4 linked regions of the Homo sapiens genome follow. The protein of the gene in region 1 interacts with the protein of each later gene in a biochemical or structural test. Each region holds a gene or a part of one and is shown in the gene's direction. Other genes may lie near its edges.

Evidence for each region.
Region 2: the proteins of EEA1 (region 1) and RAB31 form a complex in vitro, tested with the Homo sapiens proteins (2 studies listed by BioGRID).
Region 3: the proteins of EEA1 (region 1) and RAB5C form a complex in vitro, tested with the Homo sapiens proteins (2 studies listed by BioGRID and IntAct, with this or other methods).
Region 4: the proteins of EEA1 (region 1) and RAB5B form a complex in vitro, tested with the Homo sapiens proteins (one study listed by BioGRID).

What each region holds. Positions count from the first base shown.
Region 1 is NC_000012.12:92,799,740-92,807,469, reverse strand, and holds part of EEA1 (early endosome antigen 1), read left to right. Parts: intron 1-4,735; coding exon 4,736-5,066; intron 5,067-5,768; coding exon 5,769-5,870; intron 5,871-7,730. UniProt on the Homo sapiens protein: Binds phospholipid vesicles containing phosphatidylinositol 3-phosphate and participates in endosomal trafficking.
Region 2 is NC_000018.10:9,857,788-9,863,268, forward strand, and holds the end of RAB31 (ras-related protein Rab-31), read left to right. Parts: intron 1-1,440; coding exon 1,441-1,538; 3' UTR 1,539-4,764; downstream 4,765-5,481. UniProt on the Homo sapiens protein: The small GTPases Rab are key regulators of intracellular membrane trafficking, from the formation of transport vesicles to their fusion with membranes.
Region 3 is NC_000017.11:42,151,312-42,160,004, reverse strand, and holds the start of RAB5C (ras-related protein Rab-5C), read left to right. Parts: upstream 1-5,015; 5' UTR 5,016-5,112; intron 5,113-5,295; exon of another isoform or gene 5,296-5,605; intron 5,606-8,693. UniProt on the Homo sapiens protein: The small GTPases Rab are key regulators of intracellular membrane trafficking, from the formation of transport vesicles to their fusion with membranes.
Region 4 is NC_000012.12:55,976,595-55,984,324, forward strand, and holds part of RAB5B (ras-related protein Rab-5B), read left to right. Parts: intron 1-2,777; coding exon of another isoform or gene 2,778-2,880; intron 2,881-7,730. UniProt on the Homo sapiens protein: The small GTPases Rab are key regulators of intracellular membrane trafficking, from the formation of transport vesicles to their fusion with membranes.

The sequences.
Region 1 (7,730 bases):
TAGGCCTTTTATATCTTTTTTCTTGCTGGCTGGGACATCCAGTAACATTGTGAATGTAAACAGTATTGGCAAATATCTTTGCATTATTTCTAATCTTAGGCAGGAAATATTAAATGTTTCATCATTAAGTTTGAGGTTAGCTGTAGGTTTTTCTGAGATTCCCTTTATCAGATTGAAGACATTACCTTTGATACCTAGTTATATATAAAAAAAAAATTATCGGCCTTGTGGCTCATGCCTGTAATCCTAGAAATTTGGGAGGCTGAGGCAGGCAGATCATCTGAAGTCAGGAGTTCGAGACCAGCCTGGCCAACAGGGTGAAACCTCGTCTCCACTAAAAATACAAAAATCAGCAGGGGATGGTGGCACACGCCTGTAATCTCAGCTACTCGGGAGGCTGAGGCATGAGAATTGCTTGAACCTGGGAGGCAGAAGTTTCAGTGAGCTGAGATCATGCCACTGCACTCCAGTGCCACTGCACTCCAACCTGGGCGACAGAGCGAGACTCCGTCTCAAAAAAAAAAAAATTATTAAAAAAGAAAAATTACCGTGCTTGGATTGAATTTTATCACCTTTTTTCCTGTATCTGTTGATGTGATCATATGGATTTTCTGTTTTATTCTGTTAATATGGTCAGTTACATTGATTGATTTACTGTTAAACCAACCTTGCTTTCCTGGGATAAATTAACTTGACCATGCTGTATTACCTTTTTGTATATTGCTGTTTTTGATTTGATAATACTTTGTTAAAAATGTTTCATATATTTATGAGGGGTATTGGTCTGTAGTATTCTTTTAATATCATTGTCAGGTTTTGATATCAGAGTTATACTGGCCTTAAAAAGGAATTGAGAAGTATTTCCTCCTCCTTTCTGAAATAGTTTGTATGAGATGGATATTATTTGTTTCTTAAAAGTTTGATGGAATTCACTAGTGAACTGGCTAGGCTTAGAGTTCTCTTTCTGGATTGTTTCATTTGGGGTTCAATTCATTTAATAGACATAGAGCTATTCTAATTTCCTGATTTTTTTTTCTTGAGTCAGTTTTGGTACATTGTGTCTTTCAGAAATGGGTTCATTTCCTCTAAACTTCAAGTTTATTGGCAGTTGTTCATAATATTACACTTTTAAGGTCTGTTAGGATCTGTAGTAGTGTTCCTCCTTTATTCTTAATCATGCTAATTTGTCTTTTTAAAAATCAATTTAATTAGAGATTTATCAGTTTTATCAGACTATTGTAAAAAGCTTTTGATTTATTTTGTCAGTTTTCTATCTTATTTATTTCTCCTCTTTATTGTTTCCATCTTTAGACCTTATTACTTTGCTTTTTTTTAATAGCTTTTAAATGTGAAAGCGTCACTGTGTCTGTCTACATTTTGTAGTATCTGTTTCTTTTTTTCAGTTACCCACTTTTCACTTGTCAATGCTAGATGTAAGATTTCTGCAGATGGTAGTATGTAGCCTTATTCTAATAAAATCAGTGTATTATGACAGTTTTGCCACAGATGGAATAAATTATCTTGAAAGAGGGTATCTTTTTTCTAATTTGCACTAAAGTGCTCAATGGATTCATGGCAGCTCTGAGTATAAGGGTGGATTGGTTTAGAAGTTATTGGGACCTATACGATTTATTAGTATATGAAATTTCAAATGTCTCTGGTGGCAGAATGGGCATGTGCTTCTGAACATATATAGCCATAGAAGTGCTTAGCTGCAGCATCATTCGTTCACTCCCAAGGTAGAATTAGTCTCTTGCCCAGCTTATCCTTGATGTTGATGCTGAATTTGGGTCCTGCCATGATGAGATCTTCAATGAACACATCACTCACCATTATTTTGATGGATAAAAATCAGTTCCACCCAATTCATTTGAATGTCTTCATATAACTGGTTACATTTGAGTACATTTTGTCTTTAAACATCAAATCACCTGCTCTGACTGAGTTGATGGACTTGACTTGTGTCAAGGGGATGAGGGCTCTTGACTGTTCCAGTAGTAAAGGTAGAGACTAAGAACCTGAGAAAAGTCCTCTTCAGAAAGGTGAAATAAAACCCATCAGAGTTGATGATTAAGTTGTTTCACACCTTCATGGTTTTCATCCTTGTTTGGGGATATGATGGTGAAAATATTCTCATTTTCATATCTAGTAAATTGGGTCCTGATGCTTTGAATCGGAGGTTATAGAATTGCATCTTGTGCCTCAGGTGGCATTCCTCCTCACGGTAGTTTCCAGTGCCTAGGTATTTGAGGAGCATATCTGATCCATTACATTACCAACCAAATGGTTCATCATTATCTCTAGAATGCAGGCATCAGTCCATGAAGATCATCTCCGAGATGGCTTTTGTTCTGTTCCTCAAAAACTCTGCAGGCCCAATGGTTCTTTCTGTTTCCAATGGGCCCAATGGAAGTGGACCCATTTTCATTCTATGTTCTAATCTCATGGTTCAGAATTCACTTACAGGGCTCCCACATCCTATTGGGGTAGGAAAACCTTTAAGATCTTTCTTGCCTATGTACTTTGTACATACATTTCTCCTCTGAGGTCTTCTCACATTTCTGGAGTACTACCTAGGCAAGGAGGGCTGGGGTCCCTTCTGCTCTTATATCAGATAAACATATAGAGACTTTGACTAAACCCCACCCATGAGCCCAGGGCTTAGCCCAAATAACAGGATACAGGGCTCCCCTTTTTGAGGGCCCCCTTACATTTATACACCCAATGTTTCCCTCCCATCTTACAATGTATTTTCATTCCTCTGCAGTTTAATATATTTTCTGATTTCCTTTGTGATTCCTTCTTTAATGTGTAGGTTATAAGTATGTTTACTTTCCAAATATTGAGGCTTTCCTAGGTATATTATTGTTACTGATTTTTTTTTTTTTTTTTTTTTTTGAGACAGAGTCTCACTCTGTCGCCCAGGCTGGAATGCAGTGGCGTGATCTCGGCTCACTGCAACCTCTGCCACCTGGGTTCAAGCGATTCTCCTGCTTCAGCCTCACGAGTAGCTGGGATTACAGGTGCCTGCCATCATGCCTGGCTAATTTTTGTGTTTTTAGTAGAGATGGGGGTTTCACTGTGTTAGCCAGGTTGGTCTCGATCTCCTGACCTTGTGATCCGCCCACCTTGGCCTCCCACAGTGCTGGGATTACAGGCGTGAGCCACCGTGCCTGGCCCTAATTTCTAATTTAATTTTATTGTGGTCAGAGAACATTCTTGGTAAAATTCAAACTTTTGAAAGTAAGTCTTATTTAAGGCCCAGCATATGGCTTATCATAATTAATTTTCCATGTGCACATATATGTACTCTGTGTTATTGGGTGGAGTGGCTATAAATAACAATTACAGTGCTGTTCTTATTGTCTATATTCTTGCCAATTTGTTCCTCTGGTTGTTCTATCAGTTTCTAAAAAGAGATATTATAGTTTCCAACTATGATTGTGGACTTGTTTATTTCTTCCCTTAGTTACTTAAAAAAAAACAAGAAGTGTCACAGTGACTATGTAAGCCTCTATTTCTGTTTTGCTTTCTTTGATTCACATAGTCTTATGATTTTGTAATTAATTTTGAAAAAGTTAAGCAGCATAGTAAATAAATATATCAAGTCTTAATTCTAAGGTTGCTTAACAGGGATTTTAACTATATTAAAATGTAAAATAATATTAGTATAATGACTTTTCCATTTGGACCTTTAAAAATCAAGGAGGAATAATATCTTGTGAACCTATTAAGCTTTAACATCTTTTCCAGCTATTTTTTAGGAGGTAAAAGTGTGTTTCTAGAACTAAAAAATTAGATTTCGAGGTATAAATACAGTTTTGATATTGTATTAATACACAATTTCAAATACTTTATTAGTACATCTTTTAACAACCTCCCTTTAACATATTGACTTATTTTTATTGGTTACAAATTTATTCTGATTACATTGGAACTAGTGTGCATTCTAGAAATACTGTTACTTAGCATCTGGTTTTGACTTTTAAAATGGCTGTTATTTATAGTGTATTGAGGGTTTTGCTGTATAATTTGCATAGTTCCTTTTATGAAAACAATAAAAGTCTATAGCTTTCTAAAGCTATAACTTTATTTCTTCATTCTTGTTGCTTTTTTCATTCATGTATAAGAGAACTATATTAAGGAACAAATGATAACAAATCCTTTGTATAATCTGCTAGCTTCTAGGGTTAAAGTAAATCATTTGTCTTCCCTCTATATTGTAAATAAAATATTTTTTTAATTTTCTTTCTTTGATTTTTTTCTGGGTTAACCATAAATATTTTGAAGCCTAAGAACTGTCACACATAATGTGTTTCATGTTTTCAAGGAAAGAGACAAAGTTCTCTCTGTGTTGGAGAACTAACATAATGAATAGATTCTTTATGGAAAAACGTTTCTGGCTGTTATAGAGTAGAGGGTCTGTGATACATAGTTTTTTTCCTCGGGATTAGTTGTGGCGGACAAAAATGGATTAAGTCAGGAAGCTTAGATAGTTTTGTCTTCACTACTAACTTATTTGACTTGGGAAAAATAATCTACATCTGTTAAATGATCAAATGAGATGTTCTAAAGTATTTTTCAGTGGTGCGATTTTATGAAATTAAATTATTTTTACTTGTGAACTATACAAAAAAGTTTCAGAACTCAGTAATTGTTTGTGATTAATTTTGAATGGTAAATTAGAAGTGGTAAATTATGTGTTATTTAAAAAGATTGTTTTTTAAATATTTAGAGTATCCAGTACAAGATTGGATCTACAGAAAAAATCTGAAGCCCTTGAAAGTATCAAGCAAAAGCTTACCAAGCAAGAGGAAGAAAAAAAAATCCTGAAACAAGATTTTGAAACTTTAAGTCAAGAAACAAAGATTCAGCATGAGGAATTGAATAACAGAATTCAAACAACAGTAACAGAACTACAAAAAGTGAAAATGGAGAAAGAAGCTTTAATGACAGAGCTTTCTACAGTAAAGGACAAACTATCAAAAGTTTCTGATTCTTTGAAAAACTCTAAAAGTGAATTTGAAAAGGAGAATCAGAAAGGAAAAGCCGCTATATTAGACTTGGTTAGTAGTTTACATTTACTTTCTTAGGTAGAAGTGATTATTTTATTTAAAATGTACTGATTTTTCTGCTTAATTCACAGTTTGCTTTTCTTTCCACATTTAAATAGTTTAAAGTAGTTCTTATGAGGAAATTAATTGGGATTGCTTAACCTGAGAAGAAGCCCAAGATAATAATGTGTGTGTATGCACCTGTGTGCACGCCATTTTCTAAAGGCCAAGAATATTTTCAGTTGAATATTAGTCTTTCTCATGTGTGTTGTTATGTTCTTTTCTGTTTAGAGAAAACATTTTCTATCTGTACACTTTTCCTATTGTGATCATTTCTTAATTTATTGTTTCCTAAGTTTTCTTGCTTCCATTTTCTTGAAGCCCATTGCTATAAAAGTAGTGTGGCAAGTTAATTATAATGAATTGTGTGACATAAAATGTGATTTCTAAAGTGTTCTAAGATATCATTTTAATGTTTAAAATATGCCATTGTGACTTGGTTGATGATCAAAACCCTTAGTGTTTTGTTGTCCCTCCTCCATTACTTCTGTAATATTTTCCTAGTTTTATCATTGAAATGGATGATCCTGTCTCATCTTAGCTCATCATAATTTTAGTTTATTTCTTCGTGTGTATCTTACTAAGGTTATAAACTAAACTTCTTAAGGTTATTACAAATATTTTTTATGTAATATAGTTTTCATTTTTTTTAAGGAAAAAACTTGCAAAGAATTAAAGCATCAACTTCAAGTGCAGATGGAAAACACACTTAAGGAACAGAAGGAACTGAAAAAGTCACTTGAAAAAGAGAAGGAGGTAAGATTTTTTTTTTGTAACATAAAATCTGTAAAGTATAGTAAGGTCTTTATATTTTCAAATAAATATATAAAGCATGTTTGTTCTTGGGGGCATTTCCACAGATAATTTTTTTTTATAGTTTTAAGAAAAATAAGCATTTTCATACTGATATTTAGGTCATAGGTTCATTTCTCTGAAATGTAACAAATCATGTATATAGTTTAAAATTGTTATTTGTATTTTGCCTACTATTAAAAAGACTTAAGCTAGTTTATAATCAAAGACCCAAATAAAGAAATATTATTAATAAAGGTAGAAAATTGAGTCAGCTAACTACAGGGTTAAGGACCATTTTTATGGTTGAAAAAAAAATCTTAAAAGGCTTTCTATAGAAATGACCTTTATTTCATGGACTCTTTATGGCTCTTTATTTCATGGACATTTATACACATACTAATGTATACTTGATAATGGTTGTAGAACAACCAAAATATTTTTCTGTGGTTAATGCTTCTATTGTTTCCAGCAAAAACAGACAAGCAAATGAGTAAACACATGGGTATAATATATGGTTGTTGCTCTCTGAAGCCATACCTGCTAGCTGCTAGAGTCTAGGTATGCAACTTTCTAGAAAATCTGATTTGATAAAGGAGCAAGACATAGTACTGACAAGTATTTGATGTGATTGTATTCTAGTTGTTGATTGAAAGCAGACTTGTGTTGTAGATGCCAGCCATGTAAGTAGCAAAATTATAATTGCTTCATGCCCAAGTTCTGAATCAAGATTGTTCAAATTTATATCCTGGCTATGCCATTTATTAGCTATGCCATTTCGCCATCTTTTAGACCAAATACTTAATCTCTGTGCTCTAGTTTCTATATGATAGAGTCTATATGAATCTATGTGATAGAGTTATTGTGAGAAATAAATGGGTTAATATCTTTAAAGTACTCAGTACACTGACTATAATAAAGTAAATGCTCATGCTAGTTATTATTTTATCATTGGTTATATCATATATCATCCTTATTGTCATACTCTCTGACTCCTGTTTTGCATAAAAATATTTTGCTATTCATTGTGGAGATAAGCTGAGACGTCTATATATAACACTAACATTTTTTCAAAAGTAACTTTGGATATGGTCAAATGCTTGAATGTAATGCTAGGTTCTTAGTAAAATATGCATAGAACATGAAAACATGACTTTGGTTGGAGGGTGGGAGATAATAGTGGTTTACCTTGGTGACAGAGGAACTTCAGTGTGACTTCTGTATGATGTCTGAATTTGAACAGAAACATATCCTAGTGGATTGTACAAACAAGGTAGTAGTAAAATATGCCCCAGATCTCTAAATGAGGTAACTATTCTACAGTGTATTATTATTATTATTTTAAACAGAGTCTCGCTCTGTCAGCCAAGCTGGAGTGCAGTGGCGCAATCTCGGCTCACTGCAACCTCCACCTCCTAAGTTCAAGCGATTCTCCTGCCTCAGCCTCCCAAGTAGCTGGGATTACAGGTGCCTGCCACCACGCCTGGCTAATTTTTGTATTTTTAGTAGAGACAGGCTTCACCATGTTGCCCAGGCTGGTCTCGAGCTCCTGACCTCAAGTAACCTGCCCGCGTTGGCCTCCAAAAGTGCTGGGATTATAGGCGTGAGCACCTGGCCTGTGCAGTGTAATTTAATGTCATCAGACAGATACTAAATGTATTTTGTCAAAAGTGATTTTGTTTTTATCATAGTTACTATAGAGCTATTCTTTGCGACAACTGTGGCCAATAGGCTTAGTGGCATATGAGAATTTTTTTTTTTAATTATTATTTTTTGAGATGGAGTCTCTTGCTCTGTTGCCCAGGCTGGAGTGCAGTGGCACGA
Region 2 (5,481 bases), on another chromosome or scaffold:
GAGACCAAGGTGAGAGGATCACTTGAGGCCAGGAGTTTGAGACCAGCCTGGGCAACATAGCAAGACCCTATCTCTACAAAAAAAAAAAAAAATTTATCGGGGCATGGTGGCGCACACCTATAGTCCCAGCTACTCAGAAGGTTGAGGTGGGAGGATCCCTTTAGCCCCGGAATTCGAGGTTGCAGTAAGCCATGATCAAGCCACTGCACTTCAGCCTGGGTGACAGAGTGAGACCCTGTCTCAAGAATAAAACAAAATCCTCATTTTAGAGCTAGTGTTTCATGCCTTTTTCAAGGGGCATAGAAAAGTAGCAAAGAGACCTAATGTGGTTCAGTGGGAAGAGCACAGGCCTTGCGACCCATCAGGAAGTCAAGGTGTAGATTATAATCAAAGCACCAGCTGTACTACTGCCTGTTATTGATGGGACCTTCAGCAAAGTGCTCAAGTTCTCGAGTCACAGTGAAATGGTGATAATAACGACCATTACATCAAATTCACAGGGCGAGGTGAGGATGGTGTTTGTGAAAATCTTTGAAAACTGGGAGCTACTAAGGTTATTTCCAGATTCCATTGCCTTTTTTCAGAAAACAACTTTATTGAGATAAAATTCACATACCATACATTTCACCCATTTCAAATGTACAATTCGGTGGTGTTGGTATATTCACAGATCTGTGCAGCCATCAGCACAGTCAATTTTAGAAAAATCACCTCATAAAGAAACCCATACCCTTTAGCTGTCATCTCCCTGGCCCCTTCCATTGCCTGTTTAATTTTGATTTTGTGTTTATTTATAGAGACTTTCTGATAATTTTTAAAATTAAGTTAAGTAAAAATAAGATTACTTGTGGATGACATTAAAATACTGTTTCCTATGAAAAGTGTCTCTGTAGGGCTTTCCAGTTAATGATCTAAATGCATTGGCAGGATGAGGGATGATGAGCTAAGTGTTAATAAATGACACTGCTAGGAAGATTACAATTCAAATCTATTTCTATTTTGAGAAGCAGAAAAGATGGATGAGTACTCACTGTTACTGTTGAAGTCACGGTACCATGAAAGCCGCTCATTAAACCAGGATGGGTCTCTGGGAAGGCAGGGAGAGGGAAGAGCGCGCTGATGAGCGGAGGCTGGATGGGAGCTGCCCCCAGGAGTGGATCTTCCTAGCCCAGGAATTCCACACCACCAGGAAACTGCTGGACTGTTCCTTACCTGAACTTCCTAAGCCCATGAATTGGGCTTCATGCAGCAGAACTAGGGAGGAAAGGATAGGAAGAAGGAAGGGAGGAAGGAAAGGAAGGAAGGAGAAAGGAGCCCCTCCAGGAACACCTTTATTTTGTGCACAGCCCAAAGCAGGAGTGTTGAAGCAGGGTGAAAATCTGTGTGTGCAGTGTTGGCTGTAGGAAAGGGAACTCACCCTTGGCCTCCTTTTTGTTGCAGGCCGCCAGATCCCACCCTTGGACCCCCATGAAAATGGAAACAATGGAACAATCAAAGTTGAGAAGCCAACCATGCAAGCCAGCCGCCGGTGCTGTTGACCCAAGGGCCGTGGTCCACGGTACTTGAAGAAGCCAGAGCCCACATCCTGTGCACTGCTGAAGGACCCTACGCTCGGTGGCCTGGCACCTCACTTTGAGAAGAGTGAGCACACTGGCTTTGCATCCTGGAAGACCTGCAGGGGGCGGGGCAGGAAATGTACCTGAAAAGGATTTTAGAAAACCCTGGGAAAACCCACCACACCACCACAAAATGGCCTTTAGTGTATGAAATGCACATGGAGGGGATGTAGTTGCATTTTTGCTAAAAAAAAAAAAAAACCTTTAAAAATTGTTGGATGTGTACAAAAGTCTTACTGCCTTATTATGTGTATGGGATTCTAAAGTGGCATTCCACTTGGATTTCCTGTGCTACCTATCCAAATTCCAGTAACTACTTCAGTGTCATTGCCTTTGTTACCTAACCAACCTTCACTGAAAGGCAAATTTAGTTCAGGAGGTTAGTTTTTAGCTAGCTTTGGAAGTAAGCCTTTATTTATTACTTTTTGGAGGAAATCAGAGAAGTGTCAATGGACCGTCACTCAGACTGAGACTTGAGTTATTACAGAAGCCAGGAAAAGTGTATTAGAAACTGTTGTCTACACCACTTTTAATTGGTGAACAATTTTTCTAAGTTATGGTCATATATACCCAAACAAACCAAATCAAACTAAATTACTGCATATAATTTTGGGATTGGGTGGCCTAGTTTGAAAGAGTGATTTAAGTAATCACTATGTAAGTGGTGAGAGATGCAGGACATACACATTATTCAAGAGACCACCTGACATGCATCTCCTCCGCAGGAATACATTCGTCCTCTCTTAGAGAAGTTTAACGCACATAGTATTATTTTACTAAGAGAATATCTCTTGGTGTCATATCTAGGGGAAGAGAATTAACTAGAATTAAATTTAATGTTTGAATCTAAATCATTGGGCAAACTTCTAATAATAACAATTAATAATAGGTTACAGGAAAGCCAGCCAGAGGAAGTGTCAGCACTTTAAAATTCTAGACCCCAAAAAACTACAAAATCAGAAAAAGTATTTTTATGTTTCTAGCTTGAGGAGAAGGGCTTTAGGGCTAACCAGAGGTCTGACCCTAGAATGCCAAGGAACTGAGAATGGGCTCCGATGAAAACCTTCCTTTTCAGATTCCCTGTCTGCTCAATTAAAGATGTTTGAATCCAAAGGAAGTCAAGGAAGAAAAAGCATGGAAAGGAAGAGAACTGATTCCTACTGAAAATTCAAATTCTATTACCATTCTAACTTTCATAAAAAGTTGGGATCAAGAAGCAGCTGATTTCCTGCCAGGGCTTATATTAGGGGGTGATTCTTAAAGGACATTAGGATTGGTGCTCAGAAATGGTTAATCATGCTGTGTGCTAGCCAGGGCCAGCTGGTACCTTCTTTGCCATGAGCATTCAAGGGACGGCTAACCTTTATTGACAATCTATATCGCAAAAGTCAGGAAAGAGGTTGTGAGCTGATTGGATTAAAGACCTGGCACTTCAGTAACTCAGCACGCTTCCACTTCACTCAACTTAAGAGAGTTCATTGACAGTGTTAGGATGTGAAGGCTGGGAAACACTTATTTTGCTTCAAGAGTTCCACTTGGCTCTCCCAAATAGGTACCTCAAAAACTGTTAGCAAGCGGCATTTGGATGTCTTGACAGGGGCTTTGCAGGGATTTTTAGGGTTTTTTCCACATTGTCCACATTAATGGTTGGCATGATTGTGCTTGCAGGCCAAGAAATGATCATACCCCTTGCCAAAGGTAAAAAAAAAAAAAAAAAAATGAGTTGAAAATTGAAGTGACCTCTTTCCAGCTGAGTTGCAGGCTTATTTTGTAACCTTTCCTCATCCAGTTTTCCCTGAGAACCTGGGTTTATCTCTAGATAGCTGTTCAGGTTTTTTAGCTGAGGGGTAAGTATCCTAGCTGAGAGTTTTGCATCTTTGGGCTGGGTTTGCAGTGGTTGTGTTTTGCATAAAATGTCTAGTCTTTGCCACAGATAGTGAGCTACCCACTAATGAGCCCATGGTTTTATTTCAGAAGCACATGAGGGTGTGAAACCACTCTGTTACCTTTCTGTATTGTCTTAGCTATTCAAGCCAGTCAGAGGATAATATATATATTCTCATCAGCACTCAGAGTAGTCAGTGAAGAGAGTAGATCACACTTGGGCACACCAGGATTCACATAAACATTGTATCTTCTCTGTGGATGCTCAGGCCTTGTCTACAATGAGGCTTTACAACCTTCCTTTGTTTTGGCTCGGGATTACTTCCTGGCTGTCTAATAATTGAACCATAACCATGTAATATTATGTAAAGGCCTGGAAATTACTGTTGCTAAAAAAAGTCATGTAGTTTCATGTAGTGTAGCATCCTTGGCATCGTTTTCCAAAATTTGTTCCTTCTCCCTTTTTTTTTTCTTTCGTGTGTGGCATGAGTGTGTATCTGTGTAAATATGATTGTATATGTGTTACTCCGATATGTAATCCATTTCACTGGCTGAGTTTGGCCCCTAGCCATGTGTTAATATAAAGTAGGCATGGCTTCCCAATGGAAATCTCTGAGAATGACAGTGGAGTTGTGCAAGCATTTTACATTGCCACATAATTGACTTGCCATTTTATGGTTAAAAACGGCACATTAGGCAGTTGAATATGACGTTACCTTGCAGACTAAAAGGTTGAAGGCCCGAAACTAACTTTTAGCTAACAATAAGGGCTGTGCCCCAATGGAAACTGAGTTCATTTTCTGAGAAAGGTTTGGATGACTGAAATATTTCCTCTACAGTCAAGGACTTTGGCATGTGGTGGCTGAAACTGAGCTTTTTTGTGTGGGCTCCAGTTCTCACTGTTCTGCAATGCTCATGGCAAGTTGAATGGTGAGCTAGCTTATAAATTAAAGAGCTCTGAACTGTATTCAGACCGACTGGGTATCTAGCTTACTGTTTTAACATCATTGTTGAAACCAGACCCTGTAGTCCAGTGGTGCTGCCCTGTTGTGCAAACTGCTCCTTTTTCTCGTGTTTTTGTAAAGAGCTTCCATCTGGGCTGGACCCAGTTCTTGCACATACAAGACACCGCTGCAGTCAGCTAGGACCTTTCCGCCATGTATTCTATTCTGTAGTAAAGCATTTCCATCAACAATGCCTAATTGTATCTGTTATTTTTGGTTTAACACACACTGATTCATACTAATAAATATTTTCAGTTTTACCGTTTGTCTTTTTCTTATTACACTGTTCAGTAGAATCATTTTTTAAAAATCACAGTTAACTCAAACAGAGAATGATGATTCCCCAGGGAAATGTGTGCACCTGCACATATGCAGACATGCATAAGGATGTTCCCTGAAACACTGTTTGCAGTAGCAAAATGTTGCCTTCCACTAAGGAAATGGAAAAATGAAATGCGGCCCAGCCACATGATGAAAGCTATCAGGTAATGAAAATGAACTCACTGTCATGCATCAACATTGATCTCAAAAACGGAGTTTGGAGTGCAGGCTGCCATCCTGCACATCCCCAAGGGAGCCATCATAGTGTCCTGTATGAATGCAACCCTCAGGAACTGTGCAGTGCATCGCCTGGGCAACCAACCTGTGGCCCTGGCTGAGTGAATACAGCAAGCTGAATAAGTACCAATGCATGTCAACTCACACAGAACAATAATTCAGACATTGTTTATGAATGTGTTTGTGTGCTAAAAGAATTAGAAAGTAAAACAGGAACTTCATGATGGTCCTTACCTAAGGGGAGGGAGAGAAGTGAACAGGATCAGGGAGAACGAAGGAGATGTAACTATCTGTCATTTGTATTTACTTCATGATAGAAAAATCTGAAGCCAGTACGACAAAAGGATAACATTTGGTCATTTCAAGGTGTGTGTTTTATTAGCCTTTATATTTTTCTGTGTGTTTCGTTTTTCAAAGAG
Region 3 (8,693 bases), on another chromosome or scaffold:
GCTGCCGCTCACCACTCAGGGAGGACCTGGGCCCCTTGGCTTCCTGCCTTGGGGTCAGCAGCCACCAGCTGGCCTGGTTGGCTCTGGATTTCTGGACTTTTTAATGAAGCGTGGTTACCTCTGACGCTATTCCCTTTTCCAAGCCTTCCCCAACCTCCCCCTCTGTGAGGGGAGCCACCTGAGGGCTGTGGAACCCAGCAGGCATGAGATGAACCGCAGTGCCCATTGGGCTGGGCAGATGAGATCCTACTTTCTCCCCAGGACCTGGAGGCAGGTAGAGATGGGGGAGCAGAGGGGATGGGCAAGGGACCCAGCTCCAGCCTAGGACATGAAGGGAAGACCAGACAGGATCTTAGCGTCTATAGCAAGAGAGACAGGTTGTAGGATTTTGCCTGAAGATAGCTTAGTGATATTGTGAGGTCTTCTGTCTCAGCCCCTGGGTCTCTGCTGAAGACCTTAAGAGCAATGTTACCTAGAGAGGGGTAGGTTTGAGATGTTGCTTGGAATTTGAGCAACCCATGATTTCTTAGGCCGCCCACCATGAGCCCAGGCTGGAGAGGCTCACCTCATCCCACAGCCCACACAGGAAACAAACGGATGGCTCCAGATATGTACTCTTCGGCTCGCGCAGCATTATTTTCAAAATATGAGTTAGTTCCAATATTAAAAATGAGACAGGGCCAGGTGCGGTGGCTCACGCCTGTAATCCTAGCACTTTGGGAGGCCAAGGCAGGCGGATCACCTGAGGTCAGGAGTTCGAGACCAGCCTGACCAACATGCAGAAACCTCATCTCTACTAAAAATACAAAATTAGCCGGGCATGGTGGCACATGCCTGTAATCGCAGCTACTCGGGAGGCTGAGGCAGGAGAATCGCTTGAATCCGGGAGGCGGAGGTTGCAGTGAGCCAAGATCGCACCACTGCACTCCAGCCTGGGCGACAGTGAGACTCTGTCTCAAAATAAAAAAAAGAGACAGGTTATATAGGAATACAGATATTCCAATTTCTCTACAAAATGTAGCACTGGGCACAGTGGTTCATGCCTATAATCCCAGCCCTTTGGGAGGCCGAGGTGGGAGGATCGCTTGAGTCCATGAGTTTGAGATCCACCTGAGCAACATAGCGAGACCCTATCTCTATAAAAAAAATATATATATATATATTTTTTTATAGACGGAGTCTCACTCTGTCACCCAGGCTGGAATGCAGTGGTGCAATCTCAGCTCACTACAAGCTCCGCCTCCTGGGTTCATGCCATTCTCCTGCCTCAGGCTCCCAAGTAGCTGGGACTACAGGCGCCCGCCACCACACCCGGCTAATTTTTTGTATTTTTAGTGGAGACAGGGTTTCACCATGTTAGCCAGGATGGTCTCAATCTCCTGACCTCCTGATCCGCCTGCCTCGTCCTCCCAAAGTGCTGGGATTACAAGTGTCAGCCACCGCACCCAGCCTATAAAAATATTTTTTTTTTTTTGAGACGGAGTCTCACTCTGTCGCCCAGGCTGGAGTGCAGTGGTGCAATCTCGGCTCACTGCAAACTCCGCCTCCCGGGTTCACGCCATTCTCCTGCCTCAGCCTCCCGAGTAGCTGGGACTACCGGCGCCTGCCACCACGCCCAGCTAATTTTTTTGTATCTTTAGTAGAGACGGGGTTTCACCATGTTAGCCAGGATGGTCTCGATCTCCTGACCTCATGATCCACCTGCCTCGGCCTCCCAAAGTGCTGGGATTATTTTGAAAAATATTTTTCAAAATATTTTTCAAATTAGCCAGGTGTAGGCTGGGCATGGTGGCTCACGCCTGTAATCCCAGCACTTTGGGAGGCCGAGGCAGGTGGATTACCTGAGGTCTGGAGTTCGAGACCAGCCTGACCAACATGGAGAAACCCCATCTCTACTAAAAATACAAACATTAGCTGGGATGGTGGTGCATGCCTGTAATCCCAGCTTCGCGGGAGGCTGAGGCAGGAGAATCGCTTGAACCTGGGAGGTGGAGGGTGCAGTGAGCCGAGATCGTGCCATTGCTCTCAAGTCTGGGCAATAAGAGTGAAACTCCACCTCAAAAATAAATAAATAAATAAATAAAAATTAGCCAGGTGTAGTGGTGAGTGCCTGTGGTTCCAGCTACTCCAGAAGCTGAGGTGGAAGGATGACTTGAATCCAGGAGTTCAAGACCAGCCTGGGCAACATAGCAAGACACCCCCCCCACCCATCTCTATACAAATTAAAAAATTAGCCAGGTGTAGTGGTGTGTGCCTGTGGTCCCAGCTACTCTGGAAGCTGAGGTGGGAGGATCTCTTGAGCCCAGGAGGTTGAGGCTGCAGTGAGCAGTGATCACACCACTGCACTCCAGCCTGGGTGACAGAGTGAGACCCTGCTCAAACAAAACAAAACAAAAAAAACCTCAGGACATCAGGCTACCGTGGGCCAACATTCCATCTGGCAATAACTGGCAATCAGCTGGGCTGGGTGGCCACTGTCCTCTTTAGATGGGATCTGCTCTGCACTCTACTTCGCAGTCACCACGTTTCTTGATCATCTCCCGACACCCAGCTAGCTTCCCTTGTTTGAAATTTTTGTTTGGTCTCTGTGGGTATTTGAGTTCTCAAAACTTGAGTGTCCATCAGAACTACCTGAGATCCTATTAAAACGCAGATTCTGCCAGGCGCGGAGGCTCAAAAAAATAAAAAAATAAAAAGCAGATTCCTGGGCCTCATCCAATTTGGAATGTCCGGGGTGGAGCCCAGGGGTTGAGTTTGCAACCTCTGCCTTACCTAACAGTGTGTTCCCAGGTCCCTGTGCCCAACAGGTGCTTTTTGGGCCCAGTAATGTCTGCTTCTACTCCTAGGCGTGGGTCTGTCAACATCTCTGTTTCTGTCTCTCTGCAGGCTGTCTCTCAAGGTGGTCTCTTCTGCTGCTAGCAACTCAAAAATCCCAACAGCACTCCCTATCCTTTCCCTGACCCCAGACCGCTGCCAAGCCTGTTCTCCCCCATTACAACATGGTCTCACTCAGGGCCTGGACTGCTCCAAAACTCGCCCAGGTCTCCAGCTCTCCTCTACCACCCAACACCCTGGGCTCACTTTTGGATAGGAAATAAACTCTTTATTTTTGTAGTTATTGGCTCTGGGTGTTTCTGGGGGTTACTCTGAGAGCCCCAGGGCTTTGGAGGAGCCAACACAGCAATCACTCCCCACCCTCACCTTCGTTGTACCCCAGGGCCCAGTTGCTATCTCTAGGAAGGGCAGAGGCACCAGCCAATCTACTTGGCACCACATTCACACCACCAGGGGCCCCAGGGTTGAGGAAGAAACTTAATTAGTCACTATGGGCCTATTATACCCCCTTCTCTCCCCTGCACCCCAGTCACAGCCATGTATGCACACAGTATGTGGGAAGGACAGAGTCCTGGCTTTGGCCCACCTCCAGCCTTGGAAAGGTGGGCCTAGGGGACTACCCATCCCTCCTGTATAAGGAACTGTTCCAGAACTGGGTATGGCAAGGGGGCTGGGGGAAGAGCTTGTCACCAGCCAGAACCTGCTAGGAATCCCACTCTGCCCCATCCCCTCTGTCCTCCCAACAAGCCCTCTCTTCCCTCTTCCTTTTCACTTCTCATGAACACTGGCGCGGAAGTGGGGATTGTGTGTTATGGGTGTAAGAAAGAGAGACGCCCTGATGACCAGATGGAACTAGATGTGGGCACAGTTTTGTGGCAGGTTGTCCAAGACAGGTAAATTCTCCAGCTGAGGCTCCAGGATATGCCTGGTGTTGGCGTTATAGGCACAATGGCCACAGCTGTCTCCGGTGAGCTTTGATTCCACACAGGTTTTCAGTAGTGTCCCTTGAGGATGAGATGCAAAAGAAGAGGAGGTACTGGTTTGTGTTGAGAGGTAAGGGTGGGAGGAATCAGGAGCGGGCCCAGTCCATATTGAGAGGAGCAGAAAAAACAAATATTCCTGATCCATAGAGGGGGAGAGTGCAGAGTGGGGGTGGTTCTAGTCTTTATTTACGGATGGAGAGGGCCGAGGCAGAGGTTGTCCAGCTCTGTATTCCGCGTCAGAGAGAAGAGCTGACCCTGGCTAGGAGCAGGGGAAGGCAGAGGCAGAGATGGTCTTTGTGCCGGCCCCCGCACACACCAAGTAGGAGGTGGTGGCAGAAGCTCTCCCTTTGATCTCACCCAGCATCCTGCAGAGAACTCTTCCTGCAGCGCTTTCCTCACCTTCCCAATCACAGACGCCCCTGGCAATCGGGCGGACAGTGCAGACAAGGGCTTCTCCAGATCAGCGAGTTCACAGGACTGAGGCCTCGCGTGCATATTCATTCGCACCACGTTTTTTCTTTCCCAATTCTGCACACACAATCCTCTGCCTTCTTCCAACGCTCCACCACCCGCCTTCCCTCGGGGCGTCCGGAACCGGCGGTGACGCGGATGGCAGGGTTAGCCTTAAAAAGTTCCCGGCCGTAGGCTGGGCGCGGTGGCTCAGGCCTGTAATCTCAGCACTTTGAGAGGCCGAAGAGGGCGGATCACCTGAGGTCAGGAGTTCGAGACCAGCCTGGCCAACATGGCGAAACCCCCGTCTCTACTAAAAAATACAAAAATTAGTCGGGCGTGGTGGTGCGTGCCTATAATCCAGCTCCTCGGGAGGCTGAGGCAGGAGAATCGCTTGAACCCGGGAGGCAGAGGTTGCAGTGAGATCGCACCACTGCACTCCAGCCTGGGCGACAGAGTAAGACTCCGTCTCAAAAAAAAAAAAAAAGTTCCGGCCGGGCTCCGCCTCGCAGTCAGCCGGCTCCACCCTAAGCCCAAGTCCCAGGCAGCCACTGACTCCTCCCAGCGCTGCGAACTACAAGTCCCGCGATCCCTCGCGCGCTCCCTACCGCCACTCCCGCGTTCCTACCGGCGCCGCTGGGTAGGTCGGCCAAGAGTGCCTCCCATTGGTCTCCGCACTGTCAATCACCTGGGAGTATTGAGGGGCGGGGCGGAGGTGGAGATCCGGATCCGGAGCGGCTGAAAGGCGGAAGTGGAGGCCGGAGCCTGGGACACCGCCGGCGGGGAGAGAAGCGGATCCCGTCCGAGCCCCGGCCCCAAGTAACGCCGCCGCCCCGGAGCCGCCGTGAGTATGCTTGTCCCAGGACCTGGTGTCTCGCCTGCGTTGAAGCATCTCCAGGGCAGCCCTTCCTCCCGCCCAGCCCCAGTTTAGGGGGATACTGACCCCTCCCCCGACCCGTAGCCCCCTCTTGAGGGGCTCCCCAGGCGTCGGGCCATAGGAGGTGGGGAGCTTCTTTCCTTAGCTTACCTGCCTTTGGTGAGCCTTAAGGAAACCGCTATGACTGTCCTCTGGCCTGTCCATTCTAGTTGTGGGAGAGAGGTACCCTAAGTTCCGCTCCCCCTGCTTCCAGAATCGGAGGATCTTTGCTAGGTGTGAAGGAACCTGTCCCTCTTCTCTTTTAGAAGTGACAGGGAGTGCTGTCTGTCGCCGTTTTCCTTCCTCCTGTCCCACAAAACCAGTTGTCCCCTCTAGCCCTAGAGGAATATCTCGATTTCCTTTGGGGGAGGGGGGTCGTCTGGGTGAGACCGTTCCACACGCACAGAAGTGTGTGTGCGCTCCCGCAACTCCTTACTTCCTCTCTTTCCTCAAGCCAGAGAACCAACCAGGACCTCAGCTGAGTTTAAAGTCACTTACTAGAAATGAGCTGTTTTCCTGTTTTGCCCCTTCTGTCTCCCAGCCCTGTCCTCTAGTTATGTTGTTCTTTGAGTGTCTCTCTCTTTCTGCCTCTGAAGAATTTAGCTGAGGTTTGCTCAATCCTAGCTACAGATCACAGATCAGGGTGGATGTGCCCATTCATTATCTTCTTTCCCCTCCCCCCTTGCTCCAGGCTCAGCTCTGTCCTCCCAGAGCACGTGAGTGGTTTCCCAGCCGCCTCAAAGGGACTGCTTTTCTTGGGACTGCTGTCCGTGTGTCTATAGGGAGGAGAATAAGACCCAAAATGAGGAGTCTGGAATTGAAGGGCCATCTCTTTCCCACTCCCAAACACACACACATACACCTCCCTGAGCAACAGGTCCACACCACGCCAGGGTCTGTCTGCAATCCCTTCAGGGCTTGGACTTATTACTGAGGACTAAGTCAAGATCACAATGGCAGTTCTGGATTTTTAATTGTAGCCTGAGGAATTCCGATACATGCCAGAAAGTGCAGGTTCCCTCAACCATATTGACTGATCCTTGTCTGTTGCTTGGGGCTTAGGTGTGTGAAATAGCTGCTGTCTCAGACCAAGCTTTGTTATGTGGCCAAAGTACAGGCCGGAGACTGTACCTTAACGAGGAGTAGCCTGGCTCTGAGGCCATGACTGACCCTTGCTATCTACAGTGGAGGAAGGGACGGAAAGCCGTGCAGTTTGTGGGAACTTCTGTAGCTCTTCAGTGTTCTGGGCTACCTTTACCACCCTCGCTTGCCACTTAAAAGTGCTGTGTTTTTTGGCCTTGAGGTGTGTTTGAGGGCTTCTGGACAGTGGCTAGTATCTGATTCCTACAGTCTTTTGAGTAGAGCTAGGATGTACTTTCTTCACTTTTTTGTTTGTTTGTTTTTGAGATGGAGTCTTGCTCTGTCGCCCAGGCTGGAGTGCAGTGGCGTGATCTTGGCTCACTGCAACCTCTGCCTCCTGGGTTCAAGCAGTTCTCTTGCCTCAGCCTCCTGAGTAGCTGGGATTAACAGGCGCCTGCCACCACACCCGGCTAATTTTTGTATTTTTAGTAGAGATGGGGTTTCGCCATGTTGGCCGGGCTGGTCTCGAACTCCTGACTTCAGGTGATCCACCCGCCTCAGCCTCCCAAAGTGCTGAGATTACAGGTGTGAACCACCGTGCCCGGCCTACTTATTTCACTTTTTATCGGACAACAGAAGAAGCCTTCCTTATTAGGGTCAACAGCTGGATCACAGGCTCTGTATCTGTGTGGGTTCCTTTGGGGTTCATTGGAGACTTCTTCAACCAACCTAGTTTCTCTGATCTGGTCAGCCTGGGCATCTGAGGGGCAGGGCCAGAGAGGCCTGACTGCTCACTGGCCATTGGTCTCTGACCAGACTTAGGTCTTCAGGAGTAGACCGCAGTTTGTCACTCTTCAGGAGTGCTGGGATGAGGCCGACCAGCCTTCTGAGGAGACCTTCTTTTCTTTGTCTGGACATGCTCTCCCAGCTCTGACTCTGAAACGACTTTTTTTTTTTTTTTGGAGACAGAGCCTTGTTTTGTCACCCAGGCTGGAGTGCAGTGGCACAATCTTGGCTCACTGCAGCCTCTGCCTCCCGAGATCAAGGGATTCTCCTGCCTCAGCCTCCTGAGTAGCTGAGATTACAGCCATGCACCACCACGCCCAGCTAATTTTTGTATTTTTAGTAGAGATGGGGTCTCACCATGTTGGCCAGGCTGGTCTCGAACTCCTGACCTCAGATGATCCACCCACCTCAGCCTCCCAAAGTGCTAGGATTACAGGCATGAGCCACTGCACCCAACCTGAAACGACTTTGAAGGGGAAGCTCTGCCATTTAGAGAGACGAGGCAGGCCCCAGTGCTTTGGGTCGTTATGCAGCCACTTCTGGCACCTAGAAATTATAGAGTCCAAGCAGAGGTCTGACTCTGCCTGGCAGAGAGAGCGATGGCTCCGTGTGCGACAGAACCCCTCCTTTCTGATGCTGTTCCTCCCCTGCCCTCTTGCCTCTCACAATTAGAGGGCTGTTAAACTGTAGAGGGACAGTAACACTAATTTTTAAAAATCATTTTAAGGTTGCAAAATTATTTTCATACATATTCCTCATAGGTGCCTTGGGAAATAGTGGGGCTTGTTTCCCCACTTTGTTTTTAATTTTTATTATTACTTTTTTTTTTTTGAGTAAGATAAGGCAAGTGTCCCTGCTTTAGAAGGGATGCAGAAGGAACTTAAGTAGTTTGCCTAAGATCGATCATACATTTAGAAAGTAGTAGAGCTGGGGCTTGGATTTGGGGTCAGATGTGACCTGATCTAACAGTGGGCCCTTCTTCGGCCTGGTTTGTTCGTTAAATGAATGAACATGCAGACTGAGTGCGCCACGGCACAAGGGCAGACTCTTAACTCTTTAGCCCTCCTCATCACTAGCGCTCCTCTGTTTTTTTGTCTTCCCCAGCGTCTACCCGACCTCCTGTCTTCTCTCTTGACCCCTTTCACCTCTGCCTCTGAGGACCAAAACAGTTAGGAGTCCCAAGTCAGTACTCTTCAGGGCCTGAGAGTTTGCTGACATCTACATGTCATTAATTTTTCTGGGAACCTGAAAGTCCTAATGGCTAGAAAATGAAAGTTAAAGTGAGTAAACTCAGGGGTCCCACTGGGCAGGGTTAAGGGGGAAGCAACAGAGCGGGCCTCTGGTTAGTCCTCTGTTTCTCCTGTGGTGCTGCCTGCTGCTTGCAAGTGGGAAGAATGTGGCTTGCCACCAGGAGCTCCTGTCACTAGAATTTACATGGAAACAGAGCAAGATCATACATTTAAATTCAGCCCCACCAAGCAAGTACTTCTTAGACCTTCTACTTCTTTTTTTTTTTTTGAGTCGGAGTCTCGCTCTGTCGCCTAGGCTGGAGTGCAGTGGTGCGATCTTGGCTCACTGCAAGCTCCGCCTCCCGGGTTCATGCCATTCTCCTACCTCAGCCTCCAGAGTAGTTGGGACTACAG
Region 4 (7,730 bases), about 37 Mb from region 1:
ACTTGACTATCCCTTTCTTATCCATGATGATGATGGTTCTCCTAAGAGGCCCCTGTATTTGTCTTTCTTTTCTTTTCTTCTATTTTTAGAGACAGGGTCTTGCTTTGTCACTTAGGCTGGAGTACAGTGTGTGTCTTTCTGTAGGGATCTGAGAAGCTCCAAGCTTATCTGGATTTGAAATCGGTTTTCCTCTAAATCTCAGAGTCAGAGTACAGCTGGGGCATTTCATACTACCACCTTATTAATTGAATTTGTCCTTACTAGCTTTAAAAGCCCTCTGTTGTACCCAGCCTTTGTACAGCGCCCATTGGAAACCTCGGTTTTTTCCCCCAAGGAACTTTTCTCACCTGCAAGCCAGTCCTAGAGACAGTTGTGTAGGAGTATGTGTGTGTGTTTTTAGACGGAGTTTCACTTTTGTCACCCAGGCTGGAGTGCAGTGGCATGATCTCGGCTCACTGCAACGTCTGCCTCCTAGGTTCACGCGATTCTCCTGCCTCAGCCTCCAGAGTAGCTGGGATTACAGGCGTGCACCACCACGACCAGCTAATTTTTGTATTATTAGTAGAGACGGGATTTGACCATGTTGGCCAGGCTGGACTCTAACTCCTGACCTCAGGTGATCCACGTGCCTCAGCCTCCCAAAGCACTGGGATTACAGGAGTGAGCCACCGCGCCTGGCCGTGTGTGCGTGTGTGTGTGTGTGTTTTAATCCTATCTAATTTTTCCAACAGTTTTTTGCATCCTAAGAGAGTTTAGGAGTAGAATTATCAATAAGGAATTTCATACATAGACCTGGAGTTGCAAAAATATATTTGGAGAAGAGAGCTTTCCCATTGCCCTTCAAGTCATACCTCATATCTTTTAAAATTTTTTTCCTGGACAATCCCTACTGCATAACATACCTCATATCTTCTAACTCTTACTTTACCTGGGAGCAAATATTGCTTATTGGTATGAATTTTACTTCTGAGAAGGAGGCATAGGGTAGAAGAAGCAAGCGTATAGTTTGCTCCCTAATCCTAAAGCATTTCAGATTGGAAGGTAACCAAAGTGTGAGACAATGAACTTATAATAAGGAAATGCAGCAGCCCTCTTGGAGGAAGGATACCATAAAACCCTACATGGTATACTCCCACTTCCGTTTTGGGAAAGATTTAGCCATTGACTCAACAGTAACTGAACTGAATAAGGAGCTACCCAGGTGAACAAAGTATGTGTACATTTCTGGGCAAGGTTGTAGCTTCTGTTCAGGGACAGTGGGTACCTTTTCAGAGTGTCTCCTGGTTCTGTGGTGTTATGGCTCCTTTTTTTAAACTTGTGTTTCTCAAGTCAGGAATTAATAGATAGTGGCCCAAAGCTTTTGACCGTTCAACATCAACTGAAAATTCAGCGAACTTTGTTTTTAGCTATAGTTGCCTCAGTGTTTGGGTGGGAGGGCCACATATTGGGTGTGATTAGGCCATCTGAGGCATAGTAACGGGTGACAGGAAAAGCAGTTAGCCCATGCGAGTTGCAATAGTACCTTGTGGGCAAGATCCCAAGGGGGCCCTCCATCCAAGGGAGATCACAGAGGAGCCAGGGAGAGAATTGATTCTGAGGCCTATTAAAAATATTCCCAAATGGGGCCGTGTGCGGTGGCATGCGCCTGTAATCCCAGCACTTTGGGAGGCTGAGGCGGGTGGATCACGAGGTCAGGAGATTGAGACCATCCTGGCTAACACGGTGAAACCCCGTCTCTACTAAACAAAATACAAAAAATTAGCTGGGCGTGGTGGTGGGCGCCTGTAGTCCCCCAGCTTCTCGGGAGGCTGAAGCAGGAGAATGGCGTGAACCTGGGAGGCAGAGCTTGCAGTGAGCCGAGATCGCGTCACTGCACTCCAGCCTGGGCGACTGAGCAAGACTCCGTCTCAGGAAAAAAAAAAAAGAACCCAAATGGAATTGAGTAAGATCTGTCCAGATGGTACAGAAAGGGAGGAGTTGATTGGGGGAGAGAAGTAGAATTACTTAGCCTTAATTTAGGGAGCATTTAATGAGCACCTACTAGGGATCAGGCAGCATGCTGTGCTCTGAAGATTTTAAGATAAACTCCCACTTTTAAAGAAGTTCATAGTTTAGCAGAGCAGACAGACACAATTTATATACTGTGATAATGTGATACATACTATTATAGAAATACAGTCTTTTTTTTTTTTTTTTGAGACGGATTCTTGCTTTGCTGTCCAGGCTGGAGTACAGTGGTGCAATCTGTGCTCACTGCAACCTCCGCCTCCCGGGCTCAAGCAATTCTCATGTCTCAGCCTCCTGGGTAACTGGGATTACAAGCCTGTGCCAACATGCCCAGCTAATTTTTGTATTTTTAGTAGAGACGGGGTTTCACCATATTGGCCAGGCTGGTCTCGAACTCCTAACCTCCAGTGATCCATCTGCCTTGGCCTCTCAAAGTGCTGGGATTACAGGTGTGCGCCACCACACCTGGCCAGAAATACAGTCTTAATACTGTGGGACCCTACGGGCCTCTAGAGAATGATTAATTCTGTGGGGGAGAGGGTGATTATGTAATTTCACTGAAGTAACATTTGAGCTTGGTCTTATGAGATATATAGAATTTTGCTAGGCAGACAAGTAGGGACGGGCATTCCAATCTTACCTAGGTCAATAATAGGGAGTTTGTACTACCATACTGATAAGAGGTAAGTATGCTTTTTGCCTCTTGGAGAAATATAAGGGAAAGGGTGCGAGATGTGGAAGGAATCTCATTTAATCCAATGACTCATTAGGTAACACTGGATCAACAAAATGAAGAGCTGAGCCAAGTGGTAGAACTCTCATTTCAAGATTTTGGTGACTTGGGTTTAAACAGAGTTGGAGAGGGAGATGAAGGTATTTACTGGTTTCTGCTCTATCTTCCCTACTTAGTAAAACTCTCACATTAATCGCAGGGCCCACCAAATTCTGCAAAAGTTACCGCTTGTTTTCCTATTGCCTCTCATTGAATTGCTTCTATTTCAACTGTCCTGGCAGGGTTTGGTCATAGACCTTCTAGAAAAGAGTAGTGATGAATTAATTCTTCTGTCAGAAAGATATGGGACTGCATCCCAGTTGCCAAGGAAGGCCTGGGTCTTCTTAATTTGTTTTTAGTCCCAAAGCAAGTACTTACCTAAACTGAATAGAGGCAGGAACTCTATCCAGTCTAAGCTCTCGATCCTGTCCTGGTGTTCTCTTTAGAGTTCAGCATTTCCTGCTTCCTTAAGAAGTATAGTGGTATAAGAGGCAGGAGTACCTGACTAGGAGTCCTACATTTACTGCTTAGCAGTTGGCTGTATGGTAACACTTGACAAGTTGACTAATTTTATTTTATTTTTTATTTATTTATTTATTTTTTGTGCAAATGGTGGCCTTTAATACCAAGAAAGACCATGACAAGTGACAGAACAGGAGCAAATTCCCTAGTGTAGTGCCGAGCTAGCCCTTTGCAGGACCCTAAAACCTGATCTAGTAACAGAATAAATCAGTGTATTTACATTTATGTTTGCCCTGAAAACCCAGGTAAGGTCTGAAGCCTGAGGCATCTCTCCTTCCTTTCCTCCTCCCTCTCTTCCTACCTCCTTGCCTTCGTTCACTTCCTCAATTCATTCCTCTCCCTTCTCCCTTCCTCTCTTTTCCTTCTTTTCCTTTCTGCTTTTCCCTTTTCTCCTTTTTCTCCTCATTCTCTTTACCATCTACCTATGTGTCCCTCCAAGCCCCTCTGCTATTTCTCCCCTGCTCACTCCCTCTGCTGTTGTCTCCCTCAGGTTCAGCTTCCGGGGTGGGGAGGCAAGAAAGGGTCCTCAGCTCAGGGAGCACTTGTTGGTGTTCTTTATGTCACAAGTTTTCAGGTCAGTACTGGGAGGCTTGTTGCCGTTTCCTGATCTCCGGCCTCCTGACTTGAGCAAGATGTCCCGGGCCAGGGAACTAAAAGCCTCATCCACATTCATACTGGATTTAGCACTAGTTTCGAAAAATCGGATTCCATGCTCTCGAGCCAACTTATCGGCCTGCTCCTTCTGCACCTTCCTCTTGGCCTCCATGTCACATTTGTTCCCTAGCAAGAGGTGCTCCACCCCAGCTGAGGCATTCTCCATGATGCTTTTCATCCAGTTCTGAATATTCTCGAAAGATTTCTCATCCGTGATGTCGTATGCTAGGATAATGCCCATGGCTCCACGGTAGTAGGCAGTAGTTATTGTCTTGAACCGCTCTTGGCCAGCTGTGTCCCAGACTTGTAGTTTGATCTTCTTCCCCTCTATATCCACAGTGCGGATCTTGAAATCAATTCCGATGGTGGAGATGTAAGTGTTGTTGAAGTTGTCCTCTGCAAAGCGAATGATCAGACAAGTCTTGCCCACCCCCGAGTCCCCGATCAGCAGCAACTTGAAGAGGTGGTCGTAGGCTTTGGCCATGGCGGACACCGGGGGAGCCGGGGAAGGGATGGGGCTATTTATTTATTTTTGAGACGGAATCGCTCTGTTGTCCAGGCTGGAGTGCAGTCGTGTGATCTCGGCTCACTGCTACCTCTGCCTCCCAGGTTCAAGCAATTCTCGTGCCTCAGCCTCCTGAGTAGCTGGGATTACAGGCACGCACCACCACACCCAGCTAATTTTTGTATTTTTAGTAGAGACAGGTTTTCACCACGTTGGCCAGGCTGGTCTCAAACTCCTGACCTCAGGTGATCTGCCCATCTCGCCCTCCCAAAGTGCTAGGATTACAGGTGTAAGCCACCACGCCTAGCCCAAATTGACTAATTGTATGTGTCTCGGTTTCCTCACCTATAAAATATAGAGACTGGACTAAATGACCTCTAGACTGGCTCTGATCTGCCTGACTGACCTTAAGGCTGACAACTGGTACTGGGTTGGACTCCAGTGGCTATATATACCGAGAACTCTGTCTCTGTTGATAGGTGATAGACTTCTGGAGACTTCATATGTATTTGGTTTAGGGACTCAAAGCTAACAAGTGGAAGGGGGCTTGAGGAATGGAGTCTTACTCTAGCTGGGACTGCTAAGACACTTTTACTGTTATGCCTACTTTGCTGCACTGCTTGGGAGAGTTGCCCACATTAAAGAACATCCTCCATGGGTCTCCTGCATCTAGTGGGCTAACCCATGGTCAGGCCTCAATCCTCCCTAGTTAATGGGTCATTTTATAAGTCATTCTTGTAGAGCCGTACTTCTTTTTTTTTTTTTTTGATGGAGTCTTGCTCTGTCACCCAGGCTGGAGTGCAGTGGCAAAGTCTCGACCCACTGCAGCCTCTGCCTCCCAGGTTCAAGCAATTCTCCTGCTTCAGCCTCCCAAGTAGCTGAGATTACAGGTGTCAGCCACCACACCTGGCTAATTTTTGTGTTTTTAATAGAGACGGGGTTTCACCATGTTCGCCAGACTGGTGTTGAATTCCTGACCTTAGGTGATCCGCCCACCTCAGCCTCCCAAAGTGCTGGGATTTCAGGCATGAGTCACTGCACCCGGCAGAGCTGCACTTCTAAGGGAAGTTAAATCTGATTTCTTCTCTTCTGAGCTAAAAAGGTTGAAAGGAAGAGAAACCTGCCCCATCTCCCTTTTTTTTGTCTCGGGTTTGAAGGTAATAATCATCATACCACTTGACTGGTTTACCAAAAAAAAAAAAAAAAATTAGTATTTTTGTGGGAAAAAATGAGAATAGAAAATAAATAATTGAATCTTATATGTATTATTTCATTTCTGTACCACAGAATTTTTGAGAGTCTAGCTATTATATTTTTTAAATGATACCCTTATAAACATGATAAGATTAAAGATCAAAGCTTAGAGGTGGCTCAACAATTGCTGTGAACAGGGAGGAAGGCAGGACATATTCTTTCTTTTTCAGAGGTGGGATCTCACTATGTTGCCCAGGCTGGTCTCAAACTCCTGGGCTCAAGTGATCCTCCTGCCTTGGCCTCCCAAAATGCTGGTATTACAGGCGTGAACCATGATGTGCAGCCAGAACATACTCTTAAGGCTACATATTAGGGTACGAGGTAGTCTTTTCTAAGTCAGTAGTTACTGATCTCTGAGAATCCAAGGTTGCTTAGTAGCAAGAAAGCTTGCTGACCACATCTGGGCTCTGGCTTGACTTCCCATCTCTGAGAGTTAGTGACAGAGACTTTGCAACTCAAGCGTGTCTGCAATTGTTTCCTGTCTTTACACTCCCCCAGAGCTCAAGTGATATGTTTAGCCATGAGAATTCAGTCCATTCTAACTCCCACATTTTCCTTTATTGTAGAGTAGTAACATTGAGGCTTAATATTCTACCCCTTGGATCACATGCTTTGAAATACATAAAAATGTAAGGGAGTAAGTTGAAAAAACCAGTAACTTTTTCTATTGTTTCTTGAGAGTATAGCATATATATGTCACCTGAAGGAAACTTGATCAGCTTATCATCTGTCCTTTTTTTTTTATTATGGTGTCACCTGTCTTCTCTTTTATTTATTTTTTATTTTGAGAGACGGAGTCTTGCTCTGTTGCCCAGGCTGGAGTACAGTGGCATAATCTCAGCTCACTGCAACCTCCGCCCTCTGGGTTCAAGCGATTCTCCTGCCTCAGCTTCCCAAGTAGCTGGGACTACAGGCATGTGGCGCTACACCCAGCTAATTTTTGTATTTTTTAGTAGAGACGGGGTTTCACTATATGTTGGCCAGGCTGGTCTCAAACTCCTGACCTCTCAAACACCAGAGTGAGACTCTCTCTAAAAATGGAAAATAAATTTTAAAATGTTATAATTAAAGATACTCATTTAAATTGAATAAATTTAGCTTTATGAAAAATTTGCTGTATCATCTTTATTTTGATCCTTTCGTCATAGGCCATTGAAAACTTAATCATAAAATGGTACATGTATATCTGAATTTTTAAGACTGACTGACCAAGGGGACTACAGAATACCCAGTAGAATCAAAGTAATTGTCATGTTCCTCTGTATTAATCTAGTCTACTTTGGGACCTTGAGTTCTCACCTCTCATTCTTTTGCTAACTTCCTCTTTACCCTTTAGTTATGTCTCCTTTTTTTTTTTTTTTTTTTTCCAGAGATAGCGTCTTGTTCTGTCGCCCAGGCTGGAGTGCAGTGGTGTAATCAGCTCACTACAACCTTCAACTCCTGGGCTCCAGTGATTCTCCCACCACAGCCTCTGGAGTAGCTGGGATTACAGGCACATACCACCATGCCCAGCTAATTTTTTTAAATGTTTTCTAGAGACTCAGTCTCGCTATGTTGCCTAGGCTGGTCTCAAACTCCTCACCTCAAGCAAGGCTTCCCCTTTTATCTCCCAAACCCCTGGGATTACAGGCATGGGCCGCTCTGCCAGGCCTGTTTTTTCTCTTTTTCTTTCTCTGTACCACTTTCATATTGTGGCTTCTTCCCTGCCCCCGATCTCCCCCCTACCCACCCCAGGTGGAGTCTTGCTCTGTTACCCAGGCTGGAGTGTGGTGGCACGATCTCGGCTCACTGCAACCTCCGCCTCCCGGGTTTAAGCAGTTCTGCCTCAGCCTCCCGAGTAGGATTACAAATGCCGGCCACCAACCACACCCGGCTAATTTTTTTTTTTTTTTTTTAGACTGAGTCTCGCTGTTGCTCTGTCGCCAGGCTGGAGTACAGTGGTGCAATCTCAGCTCACTGCAACCTCCACCTCACAAGTTCAAGCAGTTCACCTGCCTCAACCTCCCAAGTAGCTGG